Linked DNA regions of Homo sapiens. The protein of the gene in region 2 interacts with the protein of the main gene of each other region in a pairwise test. Each region holds a gene or a part of one and is shown on either strand. Other genes may lie near its edges. The genes, in order: EML2, IFT88, KATNIP and MSRB1.

Evidence for each region.
Region 1: the proteins of IFT88 (region 2) and EML2 interact in a two-hybrid assay, tested with the Homo sapiens proteins (one large-scale study listed by BioGRID).
Region 3: the proteins of IFT88 (region 2) and KATNIP interact in a two-hybrid assay, tested with the Homo sapiens proteins (one large-scale study listed by IntAct).
Region 4: the proteins of IFT88 (region 2) and MSRB1 interact in binary tests that used the Homo sapiens proteins (3 or more experiments, as listed by UniProt).

The regions. Positions count from the first base shown.
Region 1 is NC_000019.10:45,609,749-45,616,750, reverse strand, and holds part of EML2 (echinoderm microtubule-associated protein-like 2), read left to right. Parts: intron 1-192; coding exon 193-290; intron 291-861; coding exon 862-949; intron 950-2,050; coding exon 2,051-2,146; intron 2,147-3,079; coding exon 3,080-3,210; intron 3,211-6,962; coding exon 6,963-7,002. UniProt on the Homo sapiens protein: Tubulin binding protein that inhibits microtubule nucleation and growth, resulting in shorter microtubules.
Region 2 is NC_000013.11:20,594,404-20,601,656, reverse strand, and holds part of IFT88 (intraflagellar transport protein 88 homolog), read right to left. Parts: intron 5,508-7,253; coding exon 5,417-5,507; intron 4,643-5,416; coding exon 4,538-4,642; intron 3,007-4,537; coding exon 2,904-3,006; intron 2,207-2,903; coding exon 2,092-2,206; intron 1-2,091. UniProt on the Homo sapiens protein: Positively regulates primary cilium biogenesis. Also involved in autophagy since it is required for trafficking of ATG16L and the expansion of the autophagic compartment.
Region 3 is NC_000016.10:27,732,676-27,739,928, reverse strand, and holds part of KATNIP (katanin-interacting protein), read right to left. Parts: intron 4,435-7,253; exon of another isoform or gene 4,339-4,434; intron 1-4,338. UniProt on the Homo sapiens protein: May influence the stability of microtubules (MT), possibly through interaction with the MT-severing katanin complex.
Region 4 is NC_000016.10:1,937,842-1,945,894, reverse strand, and holds MSRB1 (methionine-R-sulfoxide reductase B1), read left to right. Parts: upstream 1-2,695; 5' UTR 2,696-2,738; coding exon 2,739-2,793; exon of another isoform or gene 2,794-2,910; intron 2,911-3,013; exon of another isoform or gene 3,014-3,101; intron 3,102-4,489; coding exon 4,490-4,606; coding exon of another isoform or gene 4,607-4,638; intron 4,639-5,002; coding exon 5,003-5,115; coding exon of another isoform or gene 5,116-5,117; intron 5,118-6,751; coding exon of another isoform or gene 6,752-6,823; 3' UTR 6,824-7,666; downstream 7,667-8,053. Other genes in the region: RPL3L (ribosomal protein uL3-like), read left to right, coding at 1-60, 277-396, 1,002-1,058. UniProt on the Homo sapiens protein: Methionine-sulfoxide reductase that specifically reduces methionine (R)-sulfoxide back to methionine.

The DNA.
Region 1 (7,002 bases), on a different chromosome or scaffold from region 2:
TGGGACACCCAAGCGGCAGGGCCAGGGGACAGAGGCTCAGAGCTCTTGGCAGGGGGAGGGGTGGAGCCTGCGAAGCGAGGCCTAGGAGGGATGCAGTGGGGATGGAGCTGGGGACTGTTGAGGGGGCTGAGTCTGGGCGAGGAGGGGATGGAGCCTGGGTGCCTCCTCATAGCCCCCCTCCCCCTCCCCCAGACGGGGCGTACCTGGCCGTGGGCTCCCACGACAACTTGGTGTACGTGTACACGGTGGACCAGGGCGGCCGCAAGGTCAGCCGCCTGGGCAAGTGCTCGGTGAGTGGGCAGTGGCCCCCAGCCCGCGCCGCCACCCCGCCCAGGGGGTGCAAAATTAACCAATTTTCTACCTCAAGGGAGCGCAGCTTCAACACTCAACTGATTCTGCCCTGATCAGAGCAAGGAGTCTTGGCCACGTCCACACATTCACCACCTCGTGTGTTCTAAGCCCGCCCCTTTGTGTAGCCCCGCCCCCACGTGCTAAGCCCATCTGTGTAGCCCCGCCCCTCACGTTCCGAGACCGCCCCTCACGTTCCGAGACCGCCCCTCTGTGTAGCCCCGCCCCTCAACATTCAAAGCCAGCTCCTCCGTGTCTAGCCCTGCCCACCTGTTCTAAACTCCCATTGTGTTCTAAGTGCTTTTTGTCTAGCCCTGCCCATCACAGTCTGGCCCCGCCCACAGTATTCTGGCCCTGCCCCCATACTCCAAAGGCCTGTGTATCCTTCCTTTAGTCCCCTTGTGTTCTCGCCCTACCTCTGTATTTGACTTCCACTTTCCTGATTTAATCCTGTCCCCCTCTCCTTGGTTCCGCCCTCTGCAGCTCTAACACCATCCCTTCCCTCCCCCGCAGGGCCATTCCAGTTTTATCACCCACCTGGATTGGGCCCAGGACAGCAGCTGCTTTGTCACCAACTCCGGGGACTATGAGATTCTGTACTGTGAGTTCTCCGGGACCCAGAGACATTACTTCCTCCGTCTCATTTGCAGACTTCCCTGAGTTCTGGGAGGGGAGGGAGGGGCTTCAAGCCTCGCTCCCTTGGTATTCAAGGCTGGTTCTGATTTGGAATTTAGGGACCGCTGGCTTCTCATTTTCTCCCTGGTATACCCCACTTTTAGTCAACTCCTCCCCTTTCCGGTCGGATGGGTAGGATGCAGGTTTCTTTTTTTACATTTTTAAATTTTTAATTATTATTATTATTATTATTATTATTATTATTATTTTGAGACGGAGTCTTGCTCTGTCCCCCAGGCTGGAGTGCAGTGGCGCGATCTCGGCTCACTGCAAGCTCCGCCTCCCAGGTTCAAGTGATTCTTCTGCCTCAGCCTCCTGAGTAGCTGGGATTACAGGAGCACACCACCATGCCCGGCTAATATTTGTATTTGTATTTTTTTTTTTTTGAGATGGGAGTTTCCCTCTTGTCTCCTAGGCTGGAGTGCAATGGCACGATGTCGGCTCACTGCAGCCTCCGCCTCCCAGGTTCAAGCGATTCTCTTGCCTCAGGCTCCTGAGTAGCTGGGATTCCAGGTGTCCACCACCACGCCCAGCTAATTTTTAAAATATTGTTAGTAGAGACAGGGTTTCGCCATGTTGACCAGGTTGGTCTTAAACTCCTGACCTCAGGTGATCCGCCTGCCTTGGCTTCCCAAAATGCTGGGATTACAGGCATGAGCCACCACACCTGGTCTAATTTTTGTATTTTTAGTAGAGATGGGGTTTCACCATCTTGGCCAGGCTGGTCTCGAACTCCTGACCTCAGGTGATCCAGCCAGATGCTGTGGCTCATGCTGCCTCCTGGGATTACAGACGTGAGCCACCATGCCCGGCCAGATGCGGGTTTAAAAGTAGATGCTCCTGCTTACGCTGCGGGCTGTGAAGACCCCAGCATGTGATGCCTTCTCAGCCAGTCCTGACAGGTAGAATGAGCCCTGGGACCTTAGCCTCCTCTGTCTTGGACCTCAGCTCCGATTGTCTAAGAAAGGGATGGGTTTACTGGGTAGTTCTTCCAACTCTGAATGTCTCCTCCCATTTTCTGCCCCAGGGGACCCGGCTACCTGTAAGCAGATCACCAGTGCGGATGCTGTGAGGAACATGGAATGGGCCACAGCTACTTGTGTCCTAGGGTTTGGGGTGTTTGGTGAGTTCTGGAATGAGAGAGGTCTCACTGAGGACAGTAGTTCTGAGAGACATCCCCGCTGGTGGTTTCCAGAGTCTTACTGCTTACCTCCAGTGTGGGAAGCTCACTGCTTTACTGCATGTGGGCTGTATTTGTGTAAGAGGAAAGGGTAGGGTGAGATGACTCATTAGAGCTGTAATAAAATGAAACCAAATGGGCGTGGTAACTGGCCAGGAGAGATCCACACTGCCGGTGCCCTAGCCACCCATTCATTCAGGCACGAATGAAGCAAACACATATTCCCTGAGCAGTTCTGTGCCTGCCGTGGGCTTGGCAGTGACCATGACTGACGGCCCTGCTCTCCTGTGGCTCTCAGTCCAGTGGGGGAGGCAGACTTGTCCCCAGACAGTGATGACCCAGAGTGAGCAGGTCTGAGACAGGGAAACCCAGGGTGGGGCATCTGGCCTACTCTTGGAGGGAATCAGGGAGGGCTTCCTGGAGGAAGAGACATCTGAGCTAGGACCTGGAGGATGAGGAGTTACTTTCCAGGGCAGTGAAGAAGGAAAGCAGTCTCTTGGCAAAGGGAATAGTACATACAAAAGCCCACGCGTGACACAGAACTTGGCATTTGGAGAAATGCAGGGAGGCAGGGTGGCCAAATCATTACAGAGTTTAACAGGAGCACTGATGAGGGATGAGGCTGGAGCAGTGCATGGGGCCTGCTGAGCCTTAGAACCACAGGCTTTCTTCTAAGATCACCAGGGAGCCATGGAAGGGTTTTAAGCAGAGCAGGGGCAGGCTCGGATTCACATTTTAAGGTAATTCTGACTCATATCCTCGGATAGATACAGGCTAGGTCGGAACAAATTAAGGTGGCTGGAGTGGCAATCTGCTCCTCTTGGCGGTCCCTGGCTCCAGCTGACATCTTACCACTTCCCTTCATCTTGCCCACAGGGATCTGGTCTGAGGGGGCGGACGGCACTGATATCAACGCTGTGGCCCGCTCTCATGATGGGAAGTTGCTGGCTTCAGCTGATGACTTTGGCAAAGTTCACCTGTTTAGCTACCCCTGCTGTCAGCCTCGAGTGAGTCCCTTGGGGAGATGGGGATGGACGGGGGTAGCAAGCAGGGGTGGGGACAAAATTCAGGCAGCTCTGGTCCAACCCCACCCCTTCTCTGAGCCTCGGTTTCCCCATCTGTACAAGGAGGACAGTAGTCTTGATCCCAAGGGCCTTTCTTAACCCCAAGGTGGATGAATTTCAGTGTGTCATGGTGAAGACCTGGTTCTCTGAAGTTCTGAGCAACTGCAATTCTGAGCTCTTTGGTTCTTTTATCCTTGTTAACTCAGTAAATATTTATTGAGCACCTACTATGTACCTAGGCACAGGATATACAACCAGATCTTATGAGTTTTTAAGGGAGGCCAAGGCCAGTTGCAGTGGCTCACACCTGTAATCGCAACACTTTGCAAAGCTGAGGCAGGAGGATTGCTTGAGGCCAGGAGTTCAAGACCAGCCTGGGCAACAAAGTGAGACCCCATCTCTACAAAATACACACAAAATTAGCTGGGCATGGTTGTGCATGCCTGTAGTTCCAGCTACAAGGAAGTCTGAGGTGGGAGGATTGCTTGAGCCCAGGAGGTTGAGGCTGCAGTGAGCCATGATTGCACCACTGTACTCTAGCCTGGGCGACAGAGCAAGACTTTGTCTCAAAACAAAGACAAAAACAAAAAAAAAAGCTGGACGTTAATTTTACCATTCTCTGGTTCTAACAGAAGAGGGATTGTTTCAGCATTTTCCTAGGAAATTTTCATGCATAAAAGCAGAAAGACTAGTACAGTGACTCCTCCTGTACCTGTTACCCATGTTCAACTATTACCAGATTTGGTATATTTATTTCATTTGTTTCTTCTTTCTCCTTTCTCTTCTTTTTTTATTTTTTATTTTTGAGACAGGGTCTCACTCTGTTGCCCACGCTGGAGTGCAGTGGCATGGCACAATCTCGGCTCACTGCAGCCTTGACCTCCTGGACTCAAGCGGTCCGCCCACCTCAGCCTTCTGAGTAGCTGGGACTACAGGCGTGCACCACCACACCTGGCCAATTTTTGTATTTTTCATAGAGATAGGTTCTCTGTTGCCCAGGCTGGTCTTGATCTCCTGGGCTTGAGCAATCCTCTCCACCTTAGTTTCCCAAAGTGCTGGGATTACAAGGCATGAGCCACAGTACCTGTCCTGGTCTGTAGTTTTAAGAAACTGCATATGTGGCCGGGTGCGGTGGCTCAAGCCTGTAATCCCAGCATTTTGGGAGACCAAGGTGATGGATCACCTGAGGTCAGGAGTTTGAGACCAGCCTGACCAACATGGTGAAACCCTGACTCTACTAAAAATACAAAAGTTAGCAAGGCGTAGTGGCAGGCGCCTGTAATCCCAGCTACACAGGAGGCTGAGGCAGGAGAATTGCTTGAACCCAAGAAGTAGAGGTTGCAGTGAGCCAAGATCACGCCACTGCACTCCACTAAGCAACAATGCACTGAGCGATAGAGTGAGACTTTGTCTCAAAAAAAAAAAAGAATACAAAAATACAAAAATTAGCCAAGCCTGGTGGTGCACGCCTGTAATCCCAGCTACTGGGGAAGGTGAGGCGGGAGAATTGCCTGAACCCGGGAGGCAGAGGCTGTAGTGAGCGGAGATCGTGCCACTTTACTCCAGCCTGAGCGACAGCAAGGCTCCGTCATAAAACAAAAACAAAAACAAAAAAACCCACACACACGAAAACGCATAGGTTATCTTTTAGCCCTCTAAATTGAGCATTCATGCCTAAAAAAATAAGGATAATTCTGGCCAGGCCCGGTGGCTCACGCCTGTAATCCCAGCACTTTGGGAGGCCGAGGCAGGCGGATCACCTGAGGTCAACAGTTCGAGACTAGCCTGGCCAACATGGTGAAACCCCGTCTTTACTAAAAATGCAAAAAAATTAGTCATGGGTGGTGGCGGGCACCTGTGATCCCAACTACTCAGGAGGCTGAGGCAGGAGGATCACTTGAACTTGGGAGGCGGAGGTTGCAGTGAGTTGAGATTGCACCACTGCACTCCAGCCTGGGCAAAAGAGCGAGATTCTGTCTCAAAAGAAGAAGAAGAAGAAGAAGAATTGTTACATATCCACAAGCCTCTGACCACTCCTAATTAACATTAATTTCTTCTTCTTTTTTTTTTTTGAGACAGAGTTTCACTCTTGTTGCCCAGGCTGCAGTGCAATGGCGCGATCTTGGCTCACTGCAACCTCCGCCTCCTGGGTTCAAGCGATTCTCCTGACTCAGCCTCCTGAGTAGCTGGGATTACAGGCATGCACCACCATGCCCGGCTAATTTTGTATTTTTCAAATAGAGACAGGGTTTCTCCATATTGGTCAGGCTGGTCTTGAACCCCCAACCTCAGGCGATCTGCCTGCCTCGGCCTCCCAAAGTGCTGGGATTATAGGCGTGAGCCACCACGCCCAGCAACATTAATTTCTTACATGCCTCATCCCTAGGAAGGCAAAAACAAAACGTTAATTCCTAAATATGATCTCATAGCCAGTACATATTCATATTTCCCTGATGTGCCCCAGACTGGCCTTCTATGGTTGGTTTGTTTGAACCAGGGTCCAAACTACATTTGCTTATGTCTCAAATCCCAGCATGTAGAATAGCCTTCCCCACGTGCATGCTATTTCTTCTATTTATGCCATTAACTTGCTGAATAAACCAATTCAGTTGCCCTGCTGGGTTTTTTGTTTGTTTTTGTTTTTTTGACAGAGTCTCCCTCTATCGCCCGGGCTGGAGTGCAGTGGCACGATCTCGGCTCACTGCAACCTCCGCTGCCTGGGTTCAAGTGATTCTCATGCCTCAGCCTCCCAAATAGCTGGGACTACAGGCGTGTGCCACCACGCCCGGCTAATTTTTTTGTATTTTTAGTAGAGACAGGGTTTTACCACGTTGGCCAGGCTGGTATCGAACTCCTGACCTCAAGTGATCTCCCCAACTTGGCCTCCCAAAGTGCTGGGATTATAAGCATGAGCCACCACGCCAGGCCTAATTTTGTATTTTTAGTAGAGACGGGGTTTCACCACGTTGGCCAGGCTAGTCTTGAACTCCTGACCTCAAGTGATCCACCCCCACCTCGGCCTCCCAAAGTGCTGGGATTACAGGCGTGAGCCACCATGCCCAGCTGTTCTGTTGGTTCTTTTTTGTTTGAGACAGAGTCTCACTCTGTCACCAGGCTGGAGTGCAGTGGCACAATCTTGGCTCACTGCAACCTCCGACTCCCTGGTTCAAGTGATTCTCCTGCCTCAGCCTCCGAAGTAGCTCGGATTACGGGCATGCGCCACCACACCCAGCTAATTTTTATATTTTTAGTAGAGAACGGGGTTTCACCATATTGGCCAGGATGGTCTTGATCTCCTGACCTTGTGATCCGCCTGCCTCGGCCTCCCAAAGTGCTGGGATTACAGGCGTGAGCCACCACGCCTGGCCTCTGTTGGTTCTTAAACAAAGGGCTTATTAGCCCTGGTAACACTGGGACACCCCATTGCTATAAAAGGAAAAAGAATTAGCCAGGTGTGGGGGCGCATATCTGTGATCCCAGCTACTTCTTGGGAGACTGAGGTGGGAGGATCCCTTCAGCCCAGGAGGTCAAGGCTGCATTGAAGCTGTGCTCATACCTAAGTGACTTCACTCTAAGTGATTAAAAAAAAAAAAAAAGAGGAAGAGCAGAAAAGAACCGGGTCAAGACAAGAGGACCATGATGGGGTGGCATTGTCCCCACTGACATTTCTTCACTTACTTCTTTCCTTGTAACAGGCCCTCAGCCACAAGTACGGTGGACACAGCAGCCATGTGA
Region 2 (7,253 bases):
ATGGCATTCAAACCATTCACAAATAGTTTTCTTTTTTCGTCTCCCACTTTACTTCGTTTTTGTTTTGTTAAAGCTTTATTGATAAAAGCTTTATATAAATACCATAAAATTCACTCATTTTAAGTATATGATTCGATAATTATTGCTGTATTTATATAGTTGTGGAACTATAACCACATCCTTATTTTAATTCATTTCCATTACCCTAAAAATAAAACCTGTGCTCATTAACAGTCATTCCCCATTCTTATTCCCAGCCCTAGGTAACCATTAGTCTTTTTTTTTTTTTTTCAGACAGGGTCTCTCTCTGTTGCTCAGGCTGGAATGCAGTGGCATGATGTCTGCTCACTGGAACCTCTGCCTCCTGGGTTCAAGCAATTCTCCCACCTCAGCCTCCTGAATAGCTGGGATTATAGGCACATGCCACCACGCCGGGCTAATTTTTGTATGTTTAGTAGAGACGGGGTTTCACCATACTGGTCAGGCTGGTCTGGAACTCCTGACTTCAGGTGATTCGCCCGCCTCGGCCTCCCAAAGTGCTGGGATTACAGGCATGAGGCACCGTGCCCGGCCCATTAGTCTATTTTCTGTCTCTCTGTCTCTTCTAGGCATTGTACATAAATGGAGTCATACAATTTGTGATATTTTGTCTTGCTTCTTTCACTTGGCATAATTTTTTGAGATTCTTCCATTTTGTAGCATGTATCAGTACTTCATTCCTTTTTTTGTCAAATAGCATTTCATAGTATGAATACATACCATATTTTATTTATACATTGCCTACTTGGTAGACATTCGTCTTGTTTCTACTTTTTGGCTATTATGAATAATTGTTATGAATGTTTGTGTAAAAGCCTTTGTGACGATCTATATTTTCATTTCTCTTGGGTATATACCTAAAAGCAGAATTGCTGGTCACATGGTAAATTTGTGTTTTAACTTTTTTAGCTAACTGCCTGTTTTCCGAAGTAGCTGCACCATTTGACATCTCAGTGAATGAGGTTTCTAATTTCTCTAAATACTCACCAAAACTTATTGTTTCTTTGATTGGAGCCATTCTAATGGATGTGATCCCACCTTATTTCTAAACACTCCTCAATATAATCCCTCTATTTCAACTCAATTAGTTTATTCATAATTCTCTGATCAGATCATAAAGACTATTATTTCCCTGACTGGTCTCAGGTGTTGCCTTTTTCTCAGATGTTATCCCTTCTCTCCTCCTAAAGAGTCAATATCAAGTATGCCTCCTTCATAAAGCCTTTCTTGATCATTCTTGTTCTCAATAATGATTTCTTCCACTGAATTATTATAGCACCCATTGTCTTGATTATTGATTATGAAGCACTTAATATATGTTACTCAATACAATTTTTTTTCTAAAATGCTCAAATTCTTGGTCTCACCTGGCTTAAAAGTACTTCAAGGGCATTGTGTTCTGTAAGTTAGATAATATTTGCTAATGATAATGAGATATTATGTAAAATTCAAAAACGAATGATCTTAAAAGATGGTATTGCAAATAAATTAACTTTCACAGAGAAACTGTACTGTGCCTAGGGGAAATTATGATCAGTAAATATCTTGGAAACTTCCTATGTCCCCACAGTTATCACTAGACCATAAGAGAACTTACTGTTTCTGCTCCTGAATATTATAATAGAAAATATCCCAGCTTCCCCCTCTTCTAAGACTCAGAAGTAATCCTTTTCTCTATTTCATTCTCAAGCTACAGCAAGAACGTAAGGGGAGCTTAATTTCTAGCCTTGTATTGATATGTTCTGGAGGACTGCTATTATGATTTTGTGTCCGCATTAAGTTATATCAGGGTAGTAATGGCCTTCAGGGTTAACCCCTTTATTGGTCACTTAGTTTTATTTCATATGATCATATACAATGCTTTAACCTTTAACTTGTCATTATAAAAATGTGTACAAGTAGTAAGAAGGGAACAGATCAAAATACTACACGTATAAATCTCATGTACAAACACTTTGAAATGTTCAACCCACTGAAAACAGGTCAGAAGAGTTATCTTGTTTCAGAAAAACACTTAAATTTTACAATTATTATCTATTGTTATAAACTTACCTCATTTGCTTATTGACACTTGGAACTTGGTCTAATGCCATTCGGTAGAATTTAATGGCTTTGGAATAATTTCTTTGCTTTAAATAGATATTTCCCATATTCATTTTCAATATTCCTAATTTAAAAAAATTTAATGAATGTATAATACTCTCATTTTTCCACTCTTTGATATTTTAGATGACTTTTAATTCATATTCTCTGAAGCATTTCTCAGTTATGAAGTCTCAGATATTATCTAAAATTCTAACTTTAAAACAGTTATACTTTTCAAACTTACCTCCTGTGAAGAAATGGAACTTAAGACAGATTCCTGAAACTATGGCTAGAAAACAACTGATTTACATTATTGTGCTTTACATTATTGTGCGTTCTTCTAAGAAAACATGGAACTTAAAGACATTTAAAAGTTAGACTCAAGAATGCCACATACATTTTAATAATATTAAAGGAAACGACATTCTGATAAACATTAATACTGCTACCAAAAAATTACACAATATAAATGCTAAATATAAACTATAATCTCTTGGGGATAAATTTATATAAGGAAAAGCACATTCTATGAGGATGTCATGGCTCATTCTACTTGTGATAACAGGATACTATTAGGCAATATACCTCATACTAACTATATTTCTTCATCTGTAAGGATTTTTATATAAATAGTATGTTTAAGCAGGATACCCCTATCATAAATACTGATTTGTTTAGAGCATAGATCATTTCATTTTAAGGAAGCATAAAATGAAGAGACATAAATTAACACTACGAAAGAATTACATCTATTGGAAAAACTGATTATGTACACTTACCTGCATTGCTAAACATCTTATTTTTGACTATAACTTGATAAGTGTTAAGTGCTTCGGCATACATTTCATTAACTGAATACTGACTGGCCAAATTGAAAAGAACCTAAGGAAGAAAATATTATAGAAAAGACACATAAGACCACTTTAGGCCCCTTTCACCTATAATCTTTCTAGAGATTAAAATCCTATAACAAAGTTAGCTACTTATATCAAGATACTCAGCCAATTATGAAATTAAGTAAACAAAAGAATTATCTTGCATTACAAATGAACATTAAGAAAAGAAGACCTGTCCTCTAAATTTCACCTTAATTTTCTATGTATTCTATTTAATTTAGTAGTATTTGCCATCTATTAATCTCTGGAGGACCTACAAAGAATAAATGTGTATCATTAATGCTGCTGGTGATCAAAGAAATAAGCAAGATCGTGAACTAAATATAAATTAAACGTGGAAATATCTTAAACCTTAAAGTCTATCAGAAGAATCTGTATAGTAAGCTCTATATACTAAATTACAATTTAAGTAATTAATTTATAGTAAATTATGTTCCTAAAGGTAAAAAATGATCATCATAAATTATCCCTGAAAGATTTCATGGAATCGTAGAGTATCAGCTATAAACAGTAAGCATCTAACACTTCAAAATTTCAAACGCCCTTTTTTTCCTATGTGTTTAGCATATGAAACCTTTACCCACTGAAAATACACCCTTTTAAACAGAAGTGCAAACATTATGGAGGTGTCTTTTCAGAATTAAATAAATGTTGCTAGAAATTAGAGGCATTAGTTTTTTTTCCCCACTACCCTCATAGAACATTATTTTATATGCCTAAAGTTCTTGAAAATCACTGACCGAAAAGTCTACATTACAATCTCATCAAAATAACCACCTTGATAGAGCATTAAAATTAGTGCTCTTCAAGAAATAGAGCCATTGCATGGTAGGTTTGCAGGTACTTACCAAGTTATCAAAAAAAAAATATATATATATATATTTTTTTTTTGAGACGGAGTCTCGCTCTGTCGCCCAGGCTCTGGAGTGTGGTGGCAAGATCTTGGCTCGCCGCAAGCTCCGCCTCCCGGGTTCACGCCATTCTCCTGCTCCAGCCTCCCAAGTAGCTGGGACTACAGGCGCCCGCCACCACACCCGGCTAATTTTTTGTATTTTTAGTAGAGATGGGGTTTCACCATGTTAGCCAGGATGGTCTCGATTTCCTGACCTTGTGATCTGCCCGCCTCGGCCTCCCAAAGTGCTGGGATTACAGGCGTGAGCCACGGCACCCGGCTACATATTTTTTAATAAATAGAGACGAGGTCTCACTATGTTGCCCAGGCTGGTCGCAAACTTCTGAGCTCACTCAGTAATCCTCCCACCTTGACCTCCCAAGGTGTTAGGATTACAGGCGTGAGTCACTGCACCCAGCCTAAAATAACTAGTTAAATAACTAAAGAAAAGAGCTCTTTGCACAAAACAAAGACAAGAGTGTTTTATGAACTAAAGATTATTATTAATCTAATTGTGAGCACCTGAAGACCAGTAAGATTTTAAAAATAAAAGAAAAAAGACTCTGGAACCCATTAACCCTAGTCAAAATTTTATTTAAAAATTGTGTTATATTTCAATACTTACTGAGTAAGTTAAATCCAAATTGATATTTTCTGGAGTTGTAACTTGTTCTCGCTGTCTCACCAGGACTCTCTCTTTTCTTCCTGCATCTTTTGCCTTTTCTAAGGCCTGAAATCAGATTTATACCTTGTAACTTCCTTTGAGTGTTCATCAACTTTTATGCATTTGAGAAATATCTACATGAAGGTTGGATGAATTCATTTTCTATCCTCAGATTCCTCAAGACACCCCTGTGTGCTCTTACCAGAAACTTCCCTTGGAAAGGGACTTTTTGTTTTTTAGAATGACAAAAAAAGCCCCAGTTCTATGAGTAGTAAAAGCAGCTTTTTAAAGTGAACATTTCTTTCTAATGGTATTCATTAATCCAATAACTCACAGAAATTATATTTATATGATATGACAATCAAAGTAACATGAACAAAGCAAATTAAAAGTAAAGATTGATATTTAAAAAGCCAAGTTAGATTCCCAAAAAGCAAACTAATTTTTTAGTTTACTTAGGAAAAAATATTTGATAGTAGAGAGACTTCAAGAAGAAAACAGCCCTTAGTACTGTGTGTGGCTCATGGTAGCTACACCTTTCAGCAGCATATTGCTATCTAATCCAATAGTCCACCAGGCTGCCAAGTTAAGTATACAAATACATTAGAATTTTTTTCCCTACTGAAAAGGCCAATGTCAAAAATTACAAAACCAGCCAATTATTCTGACATTCAAATTTATGAAACTGAGTTACAATTCCTGGTTCTCAAAATAATTGCTTCTTATCCTAAGACCAGTCAACGGCAAACAAAAATATTTGTCTATACATACGGTGTATGTATAAAAGCAGACATACATCTATAAATGCTTCATAATTTTGAATCTTGTTTATGAACTTACCAATTTTAAGTCTCCACAACTATTGGCAATACAGCTTTCTTCTACCAACTCATTTACTTCCTTCTCTAATTGCTTTATTTTTTCCTCTGGGCTATTAAAGACAAAAGCAGGTACAATTTAAATCATTCAACCTCTAAAAATCTATACTAAAATTTATTTTATTTTATTTTATTTTATTTTATTTTACAGACAAGGTCTTACTTGGTTGCCCAGGACGGAGTGCAGTGGCACAATCATAGCTCACTGCAGCCTGTAGTCTTGACTCCTGGGCTCAGGTCATCTCCTCCCACCTCAGCCTCTCAAGTAGCTAGGACTACAGGTGCATGCCACCATACATGAATAATTTTGTTTTTGTTTTTTGTAGTGACAGAGTCTCCTCATCTTGCCCAGGGAGGCTGGTCTTAAACTCCAGGCCTCAAGCGATCCTCCCTCCTCAGCCTCCCAAAGTGCTGGGATTACAGGTGTGAGCCACAACACCCAGCCTAATTTACTTTCAACATTGAACAATGTGCATTTAAACTTCAAGAATAGTTATAGATAAGACAAATGTATACATGGTATTAAAGAGCAAATGTAGTACTGTTTTTAACAACTACATCATGTAATTATTCATAATAGTAAAATAATAACAACAGTCAAGGTAGGTAACATGGCCAGGCGTGGTGGCTCCTGCCTGTAATCCCAGCACTTTGGGAGGCTGAGGCAGGTAGATCACTTGAGGTCAGGAGTTTGAGACCAGCATGGCCAACATGGTGAAACCCTGCCTCTACTAAAAATACAAAAATTAGCCAGGTGTTGGGGCAGGCACCTATAATCCCAGCTACTTGGGAGGCTGAGGCAGGAGAATATTGCTTGAACCTGGGAGACAGAGGTTGCAGTGAGTGATATTGCGCCACTGCACTCCATACTCCAGCCTGGGTGACAGAGCAAGACTCTGCCTCAAAAAAATAAAAAAAAATAAAAATAAACGACAGGTTCTTGCTATGTTGCCCAGGCTAGAGTGCAGTGGCTATTTACAGGCACAATCATAATGCACTACGGCTTGAACTCTTGGGCTTAAGCGATCTTTCTGCCTCAGCCTCCTGAGTAGTTGACACTATAGGCGTGCACCACCATGCCTGGCCATAGAGAAAGTTTCTAATGAGGTGAAGAAGTTTAAAAATCCTGGCTCTATTAATAGCAAATCAAGTATTCCCAAATCAGTTACCTTTCAAAATAACAGTAATGTTGTTTTGCTACCACTTTCTTTTGGCAAAATACAACAATACTCTGAATACACATCAATGCCTAAATAAAATTTTACTACTGCTATATCAGAATAGATAGTAGTTCTCTTAATTCTCTACAAATGGATTTTATAAAAGTATATAGAAATAAATTGAGCAGCATAACTTTTTCTATAAAATTATATTCTTTGAGGAAACCTGGGACTAAGACTACAAAGTTTATTAGTTTATAAAGATCTGTAAAATTCTAACTGAGCAGTAAGCATAATAGATGGTAGTTTTATGAAGGTTACATGAAGTATAGAATTCTATTTTCTAGTTGTCTGAAACACTTGAATGTATGTCTTAAATGTTGCTTACAGATTTTATTATTAAATTCAAAATATCAACATAGAATTTTAAACTTAAAAATCTGTAAGAGAACTTTATGAAGACACTGAAAGTAACTTACCCTGTCCCTATCAAATGCAAAAAAAATGCAATCTATATTCAGGCACTGTTGGCTACCTACCCACACAGAGCCTGCCACCCGCCCTTCTTCTTTGCATGCAGAATCTAAGCAAGTCAAGAGAATCTCATTCTCTTTGCCAAGTGTTTGGTTCAGCCACGAG
Region 3 (7,253 bases), on a different chromosome or scaffold from region 2:
CAAGCTTTTGAAAACCACAGTGCTGGGGGTGTGAAACTAGGCTTGGTCTCATTTCTGTGGGAACCGCTACATACTCTATAAATCAAAGGACTTTCACAAAGAGACGGCCTCAATCGCTGCCTTCGTCATCATTACCTCCTGTCGGGACATTCGTAATAGCCTACTAATGGGTCTCCCTGCTTCCTGTCTCTTGCTACTTTAACTTGGACTTCACATTGCCACCAGAGTTCATTTCCTACCAGAGCAAATCTGTCCAGTCATTCCCCTGTGTGAAATCCTTCATGTTTTTTCACAGCCTATAGCAGTGTTCTTTAAAGTCCAGTTCCTGAGACCATCTGCGTCGAAAAGCCTGGAGTGCTTATAAAACAGCTTTCCTGGCCTCCGTGGGCATCATAATTGGGAGACCGTAAAAGCAGAGGCTGAGACAAGGACTCGGGTGCAAGTCGAGTATTTGGCAGGTGATTCCAAGAGGAAATGGGGAAAGCAAGATAGGGCAGGAAAAAGGAAAAACCCAGTTTTTTTGAGCTGGTCACTGCTGTGGCCAACTGGTGCTCCTTCCCACGGGGGCCCTCTGCGGCACTCCAAGATCTCACTTTCCCCAACCCTAGTCTTCACCTATCTTAAAAATGGCTCCATCATTGAAGCAGTGGCCAAAAACCTCGTGGCCCCCTTGATCCCTCTCTTTCTCACTTGCCCATCCAATCCGCCAGCTGTCCCTCGCCTCTCTCTCCAGAACACTTCCTGGGTCTGACCTCTTTACCTGGAATGTGCTGCTGCCTTCCTTGCCCAGGCCACCAGGGTCTCTACCAGAGACACCACTGCCGCCTCCTAATTGGTCTCTCTGCTTCCACTCTGCGTTGTCTCCTCCAAATCCCTGCACTCACACTTCATTTTCTATGCAGCAGTGAGTTTTTTTTTTTTTAACTGAAATCAGATCATGGGAGTCTTCTGCTTAAATGCATGTCGCAAATGTCTCTCCAAGACTGGGACATTTATCCACTGCTTGTTGAAGGCTGCCCTCAGGGCACTGATGCCCCAACACATGCACGAGCTGAGTGTGCTCCCACGGCAGAGCACCCCACGAGCACCTGAGGCAGGGCACTGTCCACATGCGGGGACTGTCCCATGTTCACGGCAGCTGCAGTTGGAAGGGAGCCAGGAGGATGCCGTGTGAGGACCACTGCCTCAAGGCAGCCTGTAGGTAACTTCTGGACTCAGAACAAGTTCTCCGGATGATTTCTTCACACGACGGGGTGCAGAACCATGCCGATGATGGGATAAATTCCAAAGCTCTCCACATGACATACAGTAACCTTCACAAATGGTCCCCACCTCGCTCTCCTCTCTCACTGCCAGCCTAAATGCCCCTATGTCACGCAGGTTCAACTCTCTTCCTTCCATGCTTAAGATAAAATCACATCTCCTGCTACTGTTTCACTTGTGTCATCCTCTTTACAGCAAAACTCTTTTTCCAGCTTTATCGGGGAATAGAATACACACCCCATACAATAAACTGTGCATATTTAACGGGTACAGCTTGATCAGTTTTAACATGTGTCTACGCCAATGAAGCCATCACACTCAAGAGAACAAACGTACCTATCACCCTAAGGTTTCCTCGTGCCCCTTGGTAACCCCTGTCTCCCCTTCCTCCTTCCCTGGCTCCAGGCAACCACCCACTTATGGTCCCTCCCTATATACTGATCGTCCTTTCTGGAATGTTTACATAAAGGAATCATGTTGCATGTAGTCTTTTTTGCTCGGCTCTTTCAGTCACCATAACTGCTCTGAGATTCACCTGTGTTATGGGAACTGATAGTTCCTTTCCTTTCTACTGCTAAGGAATATTCCATTGCAGGGCCCCCCGCATGATCTGTCCGTCACCCCGTCAGTGAATCTCTGAGTGTCACTGTCCCCGTGGGCTCCTCCTCCCACTACCCCTTGTTCCTCCTCCCGTTGGGCTTCTGCCTCCACCTCCACATGGAACCCACCTGGCCCGGGCACCTGTAACTAGGGTGACGGGCCATCCTAGTTTGTCTGGGACAATTCTGATTTATATCTGTTATCCTGGTGTCATTACTAATGACTCTCAGAAGTGTCTGGTTCCTAAAGTAAATTACAGGGTCCAGCTGACTGCCATACGCAATAGGAATTTCTCCTAGGAGTGGGTGGGTGTGGCGGCTCGGCAGTACTCGGCAGCTTCCCCTCCTTTGCGATGACTTTCCTCCCTGGGGCTTGTGTGGCTCTGCACCCACCTGGCTTTCCTCCTGCCTCGCTGGCTGAGCCTGCCCGACTCCTGGGTTGCTTCCTTTTCTTCGGCTGCACTTTGAACGACTAGGCTGCCCAGGGCTCAGTCCTAGGCCTCCCGAGTGCTCTTCCCTTGCTCTCCAGGTGGTCTCATTCAGGTCCCAGGCTCCCAGTTATTTTCATCTCCAACCCTGACCTCTCCACCAAGCCCCAAGTGACTGCTTGGCCTCTCTTCCTGGATATCTAACAGGAATTCCAATATAAAATGCCCAAAACAGAATGCTCTCTTTTTTTTTTAAGAGACAAGGTCTTGCTCTGTTGCCCAGGCTGGCGTTACAGTGGCTCGATCAGGGTTCACTGCAACCTGAATTTCTGGGCTCAAGTGACCCTCCCATCTCAGCATCCTGGATAGCTGGGACTACAGGTACACGTCACCACGACCAGCTAATTAAAATAAATTTTTTTTTGTAGAGACGGGGTCTCACTATGTTGTCCAGGCTGGTCTTGAGCCCCTGGGCTCAAGGGATCCTCCTGCCTTGGCCTCCCAAAGTGCTGGGATTACAGGTGTGAGTCAATGTGCCTGGTGTGCCTGAAACAGAATTCTGAAATCACTTTCTCCACACTTAGTCTTAAACTATCTTAAAAATGGGTCCATCATTCGAGCGGTTGCTAAAAAGCTTGCCGTCCCCTCGTCCCCTCTCACTTTCTCACTCATATCCAGTATGTGGGCACGTCCCTCGGCTCTCTCTCCAGAACACGCCCTGGAGCTGACCTCCTTGCCCGCGTGTGCTGCTGCCTGGGCCACCAGGGTCTCCCCCAGAGACACCACCATCGCCTCCTAGTTGGTCTCTCTGCCTCCACTCTGGGCTGTCTCCCCCAAACCCTGCACTCACTTCATTTTCCACACAGCAGTGAGTCTTTTTTTAACAACTGAAATCAGATCATGGGAGCCTCCTGCTTAAAGCTGCCCAGTGACTTCCTATGGCACTGACAAGAAATCCTACTCCCCTTCAGGGGTGCCTGCTGACCTCTCTGACTCCGGCTCCTGGCGCTTGCCTCGATTCCTTGATGTGGCTCAGCCTGTTCCTCCTGCCTTAGAGCCTGTGCACTTGCCTGGCGTGTTCTGCCGCAGATGCCCACAGCCTTGCTCCTTCTTCTGTTCAGGACCTTCAGTGAACACACCTCTAGGGCAGCCCCACCTCATCGGTCCCCTCTTTATCTTATTGCCCTGTTTTATTTCCTTTTAGTCTCTGAATGGTCTTGCTTATCAGCTTTTAACTTATTTATTGTTTTTCCCACTCAAAGTTAGGCTCCAAGACAGCTGAAGCCCTGCCCGTCTTGTCCAAGGGCACATTGTAGCCACCCAACAATTATTTTTGGGCCAGGCGCAGTGGCTCATGCTTGTAATCCCAACACTTTGGTAGGCCGAGGTGGATGGATCACCTGAGGTCAGGAGTTCGAGACCAGTCTGGCCAACATGATGAAACCCCGTCTCTACTAAAAATACAAAAATTAGCCAGGCATGATGGCGTGAGCCTGTAATCCCAGCTACTCGGGAGGCTGAGGCAGGAGAATCACTTGAACCTGGGAGGGGGAGGTTGCAGTGAGCTGAGATCGTGCCATTGTACTCCAGCCTGGGTGACGACAGTGAAGCTCCGTCTCAAAATAAATAAATAAATTACTTTGGAATAGCAAATGAATAAACATGGGTTTTCTCTCCTGAACAGCACTGCTGTCTCAACAGTGCTCTAAGAATGAACCTGATCAGAAAAGCGGCGGCCTGTGGGTTTCACCTCCAGATCGTTTATTTCCCGTGTTGCCTTGGCTTCTGATCTGCTCTTGGGAGACAGAATCTGAGACCCTGGAGATGTTCACCTATACTAACCCCTTCTTAGCCTTCCTGAAAGCTAGGTGAGTAGGAGCTAACAAATTTCAGGATCACTGAGTTACAGAGGTTTCCGCAGCAATTTAGAAGGAGAACTGTCCGGCCTGCGTTACGCCACAGGAACTCGGCTTCAATCCTCCAATTGCAGATGGCAGGCTACCATTTGCCGACTGTCAGAAAAGTCGATTCTCAAAGCACTCTTTTACCTGCTTATATGGATGGATTCTCTGTTTAGCAGAGGCACAGAGCAAGTGCGTGCTGTGAATTCACCGGGGAACAGCTATTTGAGAAGGACAGCATGGGCAGTTTTCAATGACTGGTTCTGCAAAATTACTGCCACAGGGATATCTGGTGAGACAGAAACACCTTCCTTTAAAGAGGTAGTGGGTGATGGGGAAACCATCTAGTCCAGCACAGTCACAAGGTGGGCATCCTAGCTTTCCTAATAGGGTGGCCGGCTTCCACAACATGGCCACCCATCTTCCTTCCCCAGTCCAGAGCCCATCTGACCTCCAGCCCTGTTCCCACCAAGACGTCTGGCGGAGAGGGAACTGAGAGAGGGAAGCAGGCGGAGGCAGGGGTCAGGCTTGTAAGAGAGGAGTGGGCTCAGGTGGAAATCAGTGGTATGCAGGGGTCACAGGGAGGTGGGAGGGTCGTACCCTGCCTGGCAGCTCTGAGCTCTGAAAGGTTTCCAGCACTCTGCAGGCCAAACAAGCCACATTCATGGGCAGATGTGGCCCAAGGATCACCAGAGTGGGGTCCCCATAGGGAATATTAGTCACTTCTCTGGATATTCTGTTTAAAGGATAACAGACTGCCTTGTCCTATGTCATCCTCAGAACAATCCTGCAAGGGAAGCATTAGGGCCCCATCTTATGGATGGAGAAACTGAGGCACATGCCTTCCCCAAGGTCACACAGCTGGTATGTGGTAAGCCACTATGGCTGGCATGCTAAGGTCTTAACCACCATCTTTCTGTGGGTCAAGCTAGATTCCAAGAAAGCCACAGTCCTGGCCCATGCTAGCCTAGCCACTGTTAGGAGCACCTGTACCGGTGGAGCTCTGAGCCCCTACCCTTTTTTAAATTTTTATTTTTATTTTTTGAGACGTCTCTCTCTGTCACCCAGGCTGGAGTGCAGTGGTGTGATCTCAGCTTACTGCAATCTTTGCCTCCCAGGTTCAAGCGATTCTCGTGCCTCAGCCTCCCGAGTAGCTGGGATTACAGGCACGCCACTACGCCCGGCTATTTTTTGTATTTTTAGTAGAGATGGGGTTTCACCATGTTGGCCAGACTGGTCTCAAACTCCTGACCTCAGGTGATCCGTCCACCTCGCCCTCCCAAAGTGCTGGGATTACAGGCATGAACCACTGCACCTGGCCTTTTTTTTTTTTTTTTTTTTTAAATAAGTCCCTATGGGCCAGGCGCAGTGGCTCACACCTGTAATCCCAACACTTTGGGAGGCTGAGGCAGGTGGATCACGAGGTCAGGAATTTGAGACCGCTCTGCAGAGGTGCCAGAAACGCTGTCTCTATTAAAAATACAAAAATTAGCCAGGCGTGGTGGCAGGCACCTATAATCTCAGCTACTGGAGAGGCTGAGGCGGGAGAATTACTTGAAACTAGAAGGCAGAGGTGGCAGTGAGCCGAGATTGTGCCACTGTACTCCAGCCTGGGCAAAAGAGGGAAACTCTGTCTCAAAAAAGAAAATAATAATAATAATAATAAATAAGTCCTTATAGACTAACTGTCTCCTACCCCACCCCAGCCCCCACCTCCACCTCCACTGGGTGGTGGGTGTGCGTATGTGTGTGGGTTCCAGTTCTTCAAGACATTTTTCTACATATTTACGTATATACCGCATAAGTGTCATTATACCACAAGGGTGTGCTTAGAGGCTGTATGAGAGTCACATCTGCCCCATGAGGAAAGCAGGATGGAAGATTCTGCGAGTCTGGATTCCTCTGCGCCCCCTCAGTGCAGCTCTGTATAAAGGACATCTTTACGAAAGGATCCAGGGGGAAAATCCTTTCTCTCCTCAAGAACCAGCCTGCTTCCTCCCCCTCCAGTCGTCAGGGCTTTAACCCCAGGCTCTTTCTCCCTTCTTCTGTCTTCTTCCATGAAGTGCACCATGAAATTCCTTCCTGCCGAATGTCTTAACCTTAACCTTTAGAACCCTGTCTCTCTCTCTGCATATGTGTGTGTGTGTGTGTGTGTGTGTGTGTGTGTGTGTGTCCTTCTTGTTTCCTTGGTGTGAATATTTTTTTTCCTTCTTTAACTAGAGTTATTTTTATGCCTTTTGTTCATGCTGCCTCAAACACCCTTTGCAATGGATTTTGAAAAGGACAGTTTGAAACTCTGTGGCTGGTTTGTAGTTAATGGGAACACCTTTCCTGGCCCACATTTTGCCCTTATCTTCCTTCTTTACAGTTGGTGAGAATCAACTGTGCTGAAACTGTAATGCATTTTTAATACAATATTAATATTATTTCAATCTAAGTGATTAATTAACTCAGCAAGGCCACTTTCATCCCTGGCCCCAGTGTAGAATGGCAGGTCTCTTGCAATGAACACACAACTGCCCAACAAAGATTCATGGCGGCACGGTTCCACTGTGGCAACAGTGAAGCAGAGCTGTGGGCTTTAGCATCTTAAGCCACTTTCCCCAGAGATGAGCACCTGCCTTTGGCACAGCCAATACAACCTGAGAACAAACATCTGGAATGAAGCACTGGCTAGGCCCAAAAACCACATGCCAAGGTGGGTCCGTTAAGGCAAATGGAGCCTTGGCATGGCGACACAACTGGAGTCGGCCCAGATGTGCACTGGCTGGACTTCAGGCACAGCCCAGGGAGCCCATACTGCAGGCATCCCACACTCTGGGAGTTGTGTCATTGGCTGGGAACATTTACTGGCACCTCTGCAGAGCAAAAGCGTGGGTTGCTGTCCTTCCTAGCTCTTTGCCCGGAAGTGCTGGCTCCAGCACGGGAAGGAGCCAGGGGTTCTGGGCCAGGGGTTTAGGGTTTGTCTCCCGGACTCACTGCTTTTATCCTAACTGTAGGTCTATCGAGATATGGAGGGCTATGGGGGAGTGAGGTGCTGTCACCCAGAGTGCTGCCACACA
Region 4 (8,053 bases), on a different chromosome or scaffold from region 2:
TTCGTCATGCTGAAGGGTTGTATTGCTGGTACCAAGAAGCGGGTCATTACGCTGAGAAAGGTTGGCAGTGCTGGGTGGGCTGGGGAGTGGGTGCCCGAGGGCTGCCAGCCTGTCCTGCCCTGCGGCCTGCTACGAGCGGGATGGAGTGGTGGGAGCAGAAGGGGAGGGCTCTGGTAGGAACTAGGTGAGCAAGACCTTCCTGGTGGGGCTTGGAGGTTCACAGCAGGGTGTGGGGGATCCCCACACTTGATGTTTACTTTACCATGGATTCCCCAGTCCCTCCTGGTGCATCACAGTCGCCAAGCCGTGGAGAATATTGAGCTCAAGTTCATTGACACCACCTCCAAGTTCGGCCATGGCCGCTTCCAGACAGCCCAAGAGAAGAGGGCCTTCATGGTGAGCTCACCGCCCCCATCCTTGTTCTTCTCTGGGGCTCCAGCTCCACATCCAGCCTGCCCGAGTAGGGAGCTGGAGCTGGCAGGGACTCCCCTGAGCTCAACTGCAGGAGAGACTCTTTTTTTTTTATTTATTTTATTTTTTGAGATGGAGTCTCGCTCTGTCACCCAGGCTGGAGTGCTGTGCCGTGATCTTGGCTCACTGCCACCTCCACCTCCTGGGTTCAAGCAATTCTCCAGATTCAGCCTACCCAGTCGTTGGTACTACAGGCACGTGCCACCACGCCAGGCTAATTTTCTGTATTTTTAGTAGGGATGGGGTTTCATCGTATTAGCCAGGATGGTCTCTATCTCCTGACCTCATGATCCGACCGCCTCGGCCTCCCAAAGTGCTGGGATTACAGACATGAGCCACCGTGCCCGGCCTGCAGGAGAGACTCTTAAGGGTCTATCCCTGGGCACTGATTCTTTAGAAGAGAAGGTGGGGGAGGAAGCAGCCTTAGGGGGGCAGTAGGGCCGGCCCTGAGTGATCTAGAGCCTGGCTGGGGGAGGGCGTGTTTCTGGCCAGAGTGACTAAGGCTCCTCCTGCACCACCCTCTCAACCAGGGCCCCCAAAAGAAGCATCTGGAGAAGGAAACGCCGGAGACCTCGGGAGACTTGTAGGCTGTGTGGGGTGGATGAACCCTGAAGCGCACCGCACTGTCTGCCCCAATGTCTAACAAAGGCCGGAGGCGACTCTTCCTGCGAGGTCTCAGAGCGCTGTGTAACCGCCCAAGGGGTTCACCTTGCCTGCTGCCTAGACAAAGCCGATTCATTAAGACAGGGGAATTGCAATAGAGAAAGAGTAATTCACACAGAGCTGGCTGTGCGGGAGACCGGAGTTTTATGTTTTATTATTACTCAAATCGATCTCTTTGAGCATTTGCGGAGCAGAGGTTTTTTTTTTTTTTTTTTTTGAGAGAGTCTTGATCTTGTCGCCCAGGCTGCTGGAGTGCCGGGGAGCAGAGTTTTTAAGGATAACTTGGCGGGTGGGGAGAGCCAGTGAGCCAGGAGAGCCGATTGGTCAGGGAGGAAATCACAGGGAGTCAGCTGTCTTCTTGCGCTGAGTCAGCTCCTGGGTGGTGGCCACAAGATCAGATGAGCCAGTTTATCAATCTGGTTGGTGCCAGCAGATCCATCAAGTTGCAGGGTCGGCAAAATATCTCAAGCACTGATCTTAGGGGCAGCTTAGGGAGGGTCAGAATCTTGTAGCCTCCAGATGCACGACTCCTAAACCATAATTCCCAATATTGTGGCTAATGTTAGTCCTAAAAATGCAATCTAGTCCCCAGGCAAGGAGGTGGTCTGCTTTGGGAAAGGGCTGTTACTGTCTTTGTTTTAAACTATAAACTGGCTGGGCGCGGTGGCTCACGCCTGTAATCCCAGCACTTTGGGAGGCCAAGATGGGCGGATCACCTGAGGTCGGGAGTTCAAGACCAGCCTGGCCAACATCGAGAAACCTCGTCTCTATTAAAAATACAAAATTAGCTGGGCGTGGTGGCGCATGATTGTAATCCCATCTACTCGGGAGGCTGAGGCAGGAGAATTGCTTGAACCAGCGAGTTGGAGGTTGCAGTGAGCTGAGATCGCGCTACTGCACTCCAGCCTGGAAACAGAGTAAGACTCCGTCTCAAAAGAAAGAAAGAAAGAAAGAAAAAAACAAAAAACTATAAACTGAGTTTCTCCCAAAGTTATTTCAACCTACCAGCAGGGATGAATAAGGACAGCTTGGAGGTTAGAAGCAAGATAGAGTCGGCTGAGTTAGATCTCTTTCACTGTTTCAGTCATCATTTTGCAAAGGCGGTTTCACCTGGGCGCGGAAAGGCTGCATGACCTCCGGCAGCTCCGGGCTTAGTACCAGGGACTGGACTGGGGGGACACGACCCTACGGATTCGCGCCGTCGCCCACCTGGCCAGGCCCCATGTGCGCCCCTAGCCACCAGGGCGCGAGGGGCGGCAGGGGCGGGGCCTTGGGGAAGCGGCCTAGGGGTGGTCCCTGGGAGTTTCCATGGGCGGGGCCTGCTGGGGAGATGCGATTGGACTGGCACCGGGGGGCGGGGCCTTGGGGAAGTGGCCCAGGAGTGGTCCCAAGGAGTCAACGTGGGCGGGGCCAGCTGGGAAGATCGTATTGGACCAGCCCTGAGGAGGGGCGGGGCCTCCCGGAGGCGGAAGCCGGGATTCGCCCTCCGGGGAGCGATTGGTCCTCGGGAGGGGCGGGGAGGTGGACGCGGGTACCGGCGGTCGTCGGGTCGGCAGCCTTTGGTCAGTTGGCAGCGGCAAGCGCGCTGCGGTTCCGGTGGCGCCATGTCGTTCTGCAGCTTCTTCGGGGGCGAGGTTTTCCAGAATCACTTTGAACCTGGTTGGTCCTGCGGCCTCTCGCTGGGAGGGCAGCGCGGCGGGGGGCGCGCATTAGCGGGGGCGCCGCCGTCGTCCGGGGGTGATGTCTCTCCCAAGCCGGGAATGGGGGCGAATGTGGCTGCCGGGGAGAAGCGAACAGGGGTCAAAAGGACTGCGGAGGAGTGGGGAGCCTGGGGGCGAGGAGAGTGGGGTACCCGAGGAGAGGGGGCCTTGGGGCTCACCGTCCTGGAGGGGGCAGGCCTCGAGTGTGAACGTGCCGTTTCGGGGGTGGGTCTAAGGGATCGGGATACGTGGGGGTGGTACCCCTTCCCTACCCCCTACACTCCAAAGTGATGGCGCTGGGGGAATTCGGGTTAGGGTCGGGGCTTCGGAGAGGCCAGGTTCTTGTCCAGGGCCAGCTCCTGTGGCCGGGGCGCCCCTTCGCGGGTCATCCCGCAGGTGTTACCCTGGCCCTTCCCATTCCCCCGAGTCCGGGATCTCTGGGAGGAGTCTGGCAAGCATAGAATGTCCCCTTCAGATCCTAATGTGCCGGCCCAGGTGCCTCCCCACCTGCCCAGGGACTCCAAATTGGGGAACCAGGAGTGCCACCAGGCACCTGCCAACAGCCCGTGAAGTTTGACCAGGCAGGCAGGATGGGGTGGTTTGGGGCATGGCCAGCCCTCCACACTGGCCCTGATGAATCCCTTCTGGGCTGGGCTCGCCTGGTAGTGGACTAATTTGGTAAAAACACATCCACAGGCAAGTCTGAGTGCACTGGTCTCCTTGGGCGGATCTGCTGGGTGGCACCCCTGTAGCGGGTTGGGCTGTGACACAGGACCATCCCGGCAAAGCCTCCCCCAGCAAGACTCTCTGGCTTTAGATCCCAGTTGTCCTCAGGCTGCTCTGCCAAGCCAGAAACTCCACTTCCACAGCAGCTGCTGGCTTCTCTTTGCTTTTTTCTCCAGTTCCTGGAAAAGGCTGGGTAGTTTACAGTCTCCAGGGGAGGCTGTCCCCAGGTGATGGGTGAGAGGTGACTCAGCACCCCTGGAGGTTCCTGTTTTCAGTCCTTAAAACAGTTCTGCAAGTCAGTTTTGCAACTTTCCCACCCCCTCCACTCCAAAGGGATCCTTTGTGGGTAGGCTGAAATCTGTTGTCCCCAGCCCTCTTTCTTCCTGGGCTCCTGTGTGGCCTGGAGGCCTTTTCTCTGGGACTGTTCTCTTCCTGCCTGGAGAGCAGAGCAGTGCCTGGGTATCCAGCTTAGGGCCTCGTTGGGCAGCAGGGAGGACCACTTGAGAAAGGAGAGGGACCAGGTGGTTGGGCCACATCAGGGCCCCTGCCCTCTATGTTCCTGGGGGAACTAGGGGGGCGAGGGGGAGCTCCGTGTCCTCATTGGACTACCCAGGTTCCTTCACGCTGCACACACTTGTAGCTGAGTGTCTGCATCACCAAGCAAAGATGGAAATGTTAGGATATGCCCCGTCACGGGGCTATGAGAAGAATCAAGGAGATAATTGTGAAAGGTGACTCCCCTGGTCTCTGGCACATCTACTAAACGTGAGCTCAGCACAGCGCCTCCCGTGGCGGGTGCCTGGGGAAGGAGCACAGCCTACCCTCGGAACGGGGGCAGCGCTGTCTTTGCCTGGGTTGGTGGATTTGGGAGCTTGACCCCGGAAAGGCGGGAGCTGATGACTCCACATTTGCCTCTCCTTCCACCACAGGCGTTTACGTGTGTGCCAAGTGTGGCTATGAGCTGTTCTCCAGCCGCTCGAAGTATGCACACTCGTCTCCATGGCCGGCGTTCACCGAGACCATTCACGCCGACAGCGTGGCCAAGCGTCCGGAGCACAATAGATCTGAAGCCTTGAAGGTGAGAGGCCACAGGGGTGGGGGAGGGACGGGGGCGGCCAGGGAGAGCAGAGAGCCAGTCCCACCTTCCTCCCTCTGCTTGCCCCACAGCTCCAGGGGCTTAGAGGCGTCTATTCCAGGCCTGTTGCCTCTGCCAGGGAGCTGCCACCCCAGGCTATCGGGAGAGCCTGGCCTTCTGGTGCAAATGTGGGAAACAGGACAGGTTTCCTGTACGGGCTCCAGGACAAAGGTCAACCTCTTATGTCGGCGGTCAGCTTGGGAAATAGGCGTGTGGGAAGAAACACCATCTGCCAGCCCCAGTAAGGGCCTTCACTGTGGCTGTATCATGGCCAGAAGCTCACCCAGCTGCCTTGTGATCTTTCCAGGTGTCCTGTGGCAAGTGTGGCAATGGGTTGGGCCACGAGTTCCTGAACGACGGCCCCAAGCCGGGGCAGTCCCGATTCTGAATATTCAGCAGCTCGCTGAAGTTTGTCCCTAAAGGTGAGCTTGCTTTGCACAGCTGGGGCCAGGCCTGTTGGCCTTTGAGCCCAGGCTGGGGGGCCCAGTGTTTGTGCTTGTCCACTTACCATGACAAGGTATGGGGCCACCAAGTCACGCTGCCTGGGAACTGTCCAGGATCCCCCAGAAAGGTGGCTGCAGCGCAGGGGCAAAGGAGCTGGTGTTCCGCTTCCTCGCTTGGTTGATCATGACTGTCCCAAAAAGGGGCTTCAGCGTGAGAATGTGGCAAATGGTTTTCCTCAGAGGCCTGGCCTTTCCCAGAGGCTAGAGTCAGGGGCGGGGCAGGCAGAGCCTGAGGCCCCAGTCTGTGCGGCTGTGTCTCCCACTGGCTAGGACTGTGGCCTTGCTTCTTAGCCGCTCAGAGCCTGCCTCCTCCTCTGCAGAGTGGCGGTGGTAGCAGGGCTGTGAGGACAGCTGCGTGTCACGTGCACCTGGGCCTGGCACACAATAATAGCTTGATGAATCCTCATCCTTTTTTTTTTTTTTTCTGAGATGGAGTCTTGCTCTGTCGTGCAGGCTGGTGTGCAGTGGCGCGATCTCAGCTCACTGCAACCTCTGCCTCCTGGTTCAAGCAATTCTCCTGTCTTGGCCTCCCAAGTAGCTGGGATTGCAGGCACGCATCACCACGCCCAGCTAATTTTTGTATTTTTAGTAGATACGGGGTTTCACCATGGTGGCCAGGCTGGTCTTAAACTCCTGACCTCAGGTGATCTGCCCACCTTGGCCTCTCAAAGTGCTCGAATTATAGGCATGAGCCACCACGCCCAGCCCACACCTGGTTAATTTTTAATTTTTTTTTTTTTTTTGGTGACAGAGTCTTGTTCTGTCACCCAGGCTGGAGTGCAATGGCCAATCTCAGCTCAATGTAGCCTCTGCTTCCCAGGTTCAAGTGATTCTTCTGCCTCAGCCTCCCGAGTAGCTGGGATTACAGGCTCCCACTACCGCGCCTGGCTAATTTTTGATTTTTTAGTAGAGACGGGGTTTCACCATGTTAGCCAGGCTGGTCTGGAACTCCTGACCTGAGGTGATCTGCCTGTCTCAACCTCCCAAAGTGCCGGGATTATAGGCGTGAGCTACCGCACCCAGCCAATTTTTAAAATTTTTATAGAGATGGGGGTCTCACTATGTGGCCCAGGCTGGTCTTGAACTCCTCTGGGCCTTGGCCTCCCAAGGTGCTGGGATTACAGGCTTGAGCCACTGCCTCGCCTGAAATGGGGCTGTTAACAGCACACGCTTGTGGCCATCACCGTGCTGTGGGGTTGAGCGAGCAGCCTGTCAGGATCTGGTGCGTGGTAAACCTGCGATGTTTTCGTCCTTTTGTTGTTATTTGTCCTCCGTGTGAGTGGAGGGAGAAGAGATTCTGGGTTCTCCTGTGGATGTCAGAACAAAATGGGGTACACAGACTCCCCTGAGTCGGGCATCTGGTCTTTTCAGCTCCCCTGTGGCCTGCAGGCCAGGGCAGAGTGTGAAAGCGCAGGGAACGGCACCTGAAGCTCTGCCTTGCAGTGACTTGCTTTCTGCCCCTACCCTGGCTTTCCACCGCCCCCGCGCCCGGCTTTCCGCCCCTGCTTGCTTTCTGTCCCCGCATACTTTCCGCCCCCTCTCCTCTCTTTCAGGCAAAGAAACTTCTGCCTCCCAGGGTCACTAGGCGGGCAGCCCACACCCACCCCAGACGGCCACCACACTGAGGCCACACGTTGGCCATTCCACCTTGGAGTTGGAACCCTGGGCGTCGAGACAGGAAGGCAGGGCGCAGTGGTTGAAACATCAGGACACTCCCAAGGCCCCGGCTCTGAACAAGACCTTTTCGTTTCTTGGAAAAGAGACTCATTTGCTGATGGTTCATGCCTTCTGCTGGGACAGGCCTGGGCTGTGCAGCCACACTGTCGGCTGACTTAGCCCCCTGCTCACTCTAGGTGCCTCCAGGAGGTGAGCCCTGGGTGCAGCTGGTCTCTGAATGACGTTACACCCTCACCTTCTTTTCCTGGCCCTGTCTCTGGACTCTCCCCTGTGAGGCCCAATTCCAAGACAGACTCTCGTCCTCACCGAAGCTTAGGCCCACATCTCCCAGGCTGCTTAGGAGACAGAATGGAAACGGAGGCCGCCCCTGCCAGCCGCCCTGGCCCTGGTCACTGCATGATCCGCTCTGGTCAAACCCTTCCAGGCCAGCCAGAGTGGGGATGGTCTGTGACCTGCTGGGAAGGCAGGCTGATGGGGCACACCCTTGGCCTCTCGTCCACGAGGGGAGAAACCTAAACCCTGTTTCACAATCTGTGCGGAAGTAGCTTGCCTCACTTCTGCTTAGGAAAGCGGCTGTTGCTCCATAACTCTAACCAGCACAGGGCTGAGGCCTGCAGTGCACACCTGCAGGGAGGCCCTTCCCAAGGTGTGGTGACTGTGCCTTACTGTACATGCTCGGAGGCCTGGCCATATAGGAGGGTGGGTGATGCTGAAATCACCCCCCATCTTAAGTAATTACTTTCTGGAGTAATCAGGTGGAAATCCATAGACAAATGAAACATTCAGATGTACTGTCTTTTTTTTTGTTTTGAGATGGGGTGGGGTCTTGCTCTGACATCCAGGCTGGAGTACAGTGGTGCAGCGTGGCTCACTGCAGCACTGACCTCGCAGGTTCAAGTGATTCTCCCACCTCAGCCTCCCAAGTAGCTGGGACCACAGGTGGGCACCACCATGCTGGATAATTTTTACATTTTTCTGTAGAGATGGGGTCTCACTATGTTGCCGAGGCTGGTCTTGAACTCCTGGACTCAAATGATCCTCTCACCTTGGCCTCCCAAAATGCTAGGATTACACATGTAAGCCACCTTGCCCCGGCCCTGCTGTCTTTATTAACAACATCAGAGATGCCAGGACATGAGTGTCAGGCCTTTATATAGTTAAAAAAGGCAGGCATGGTG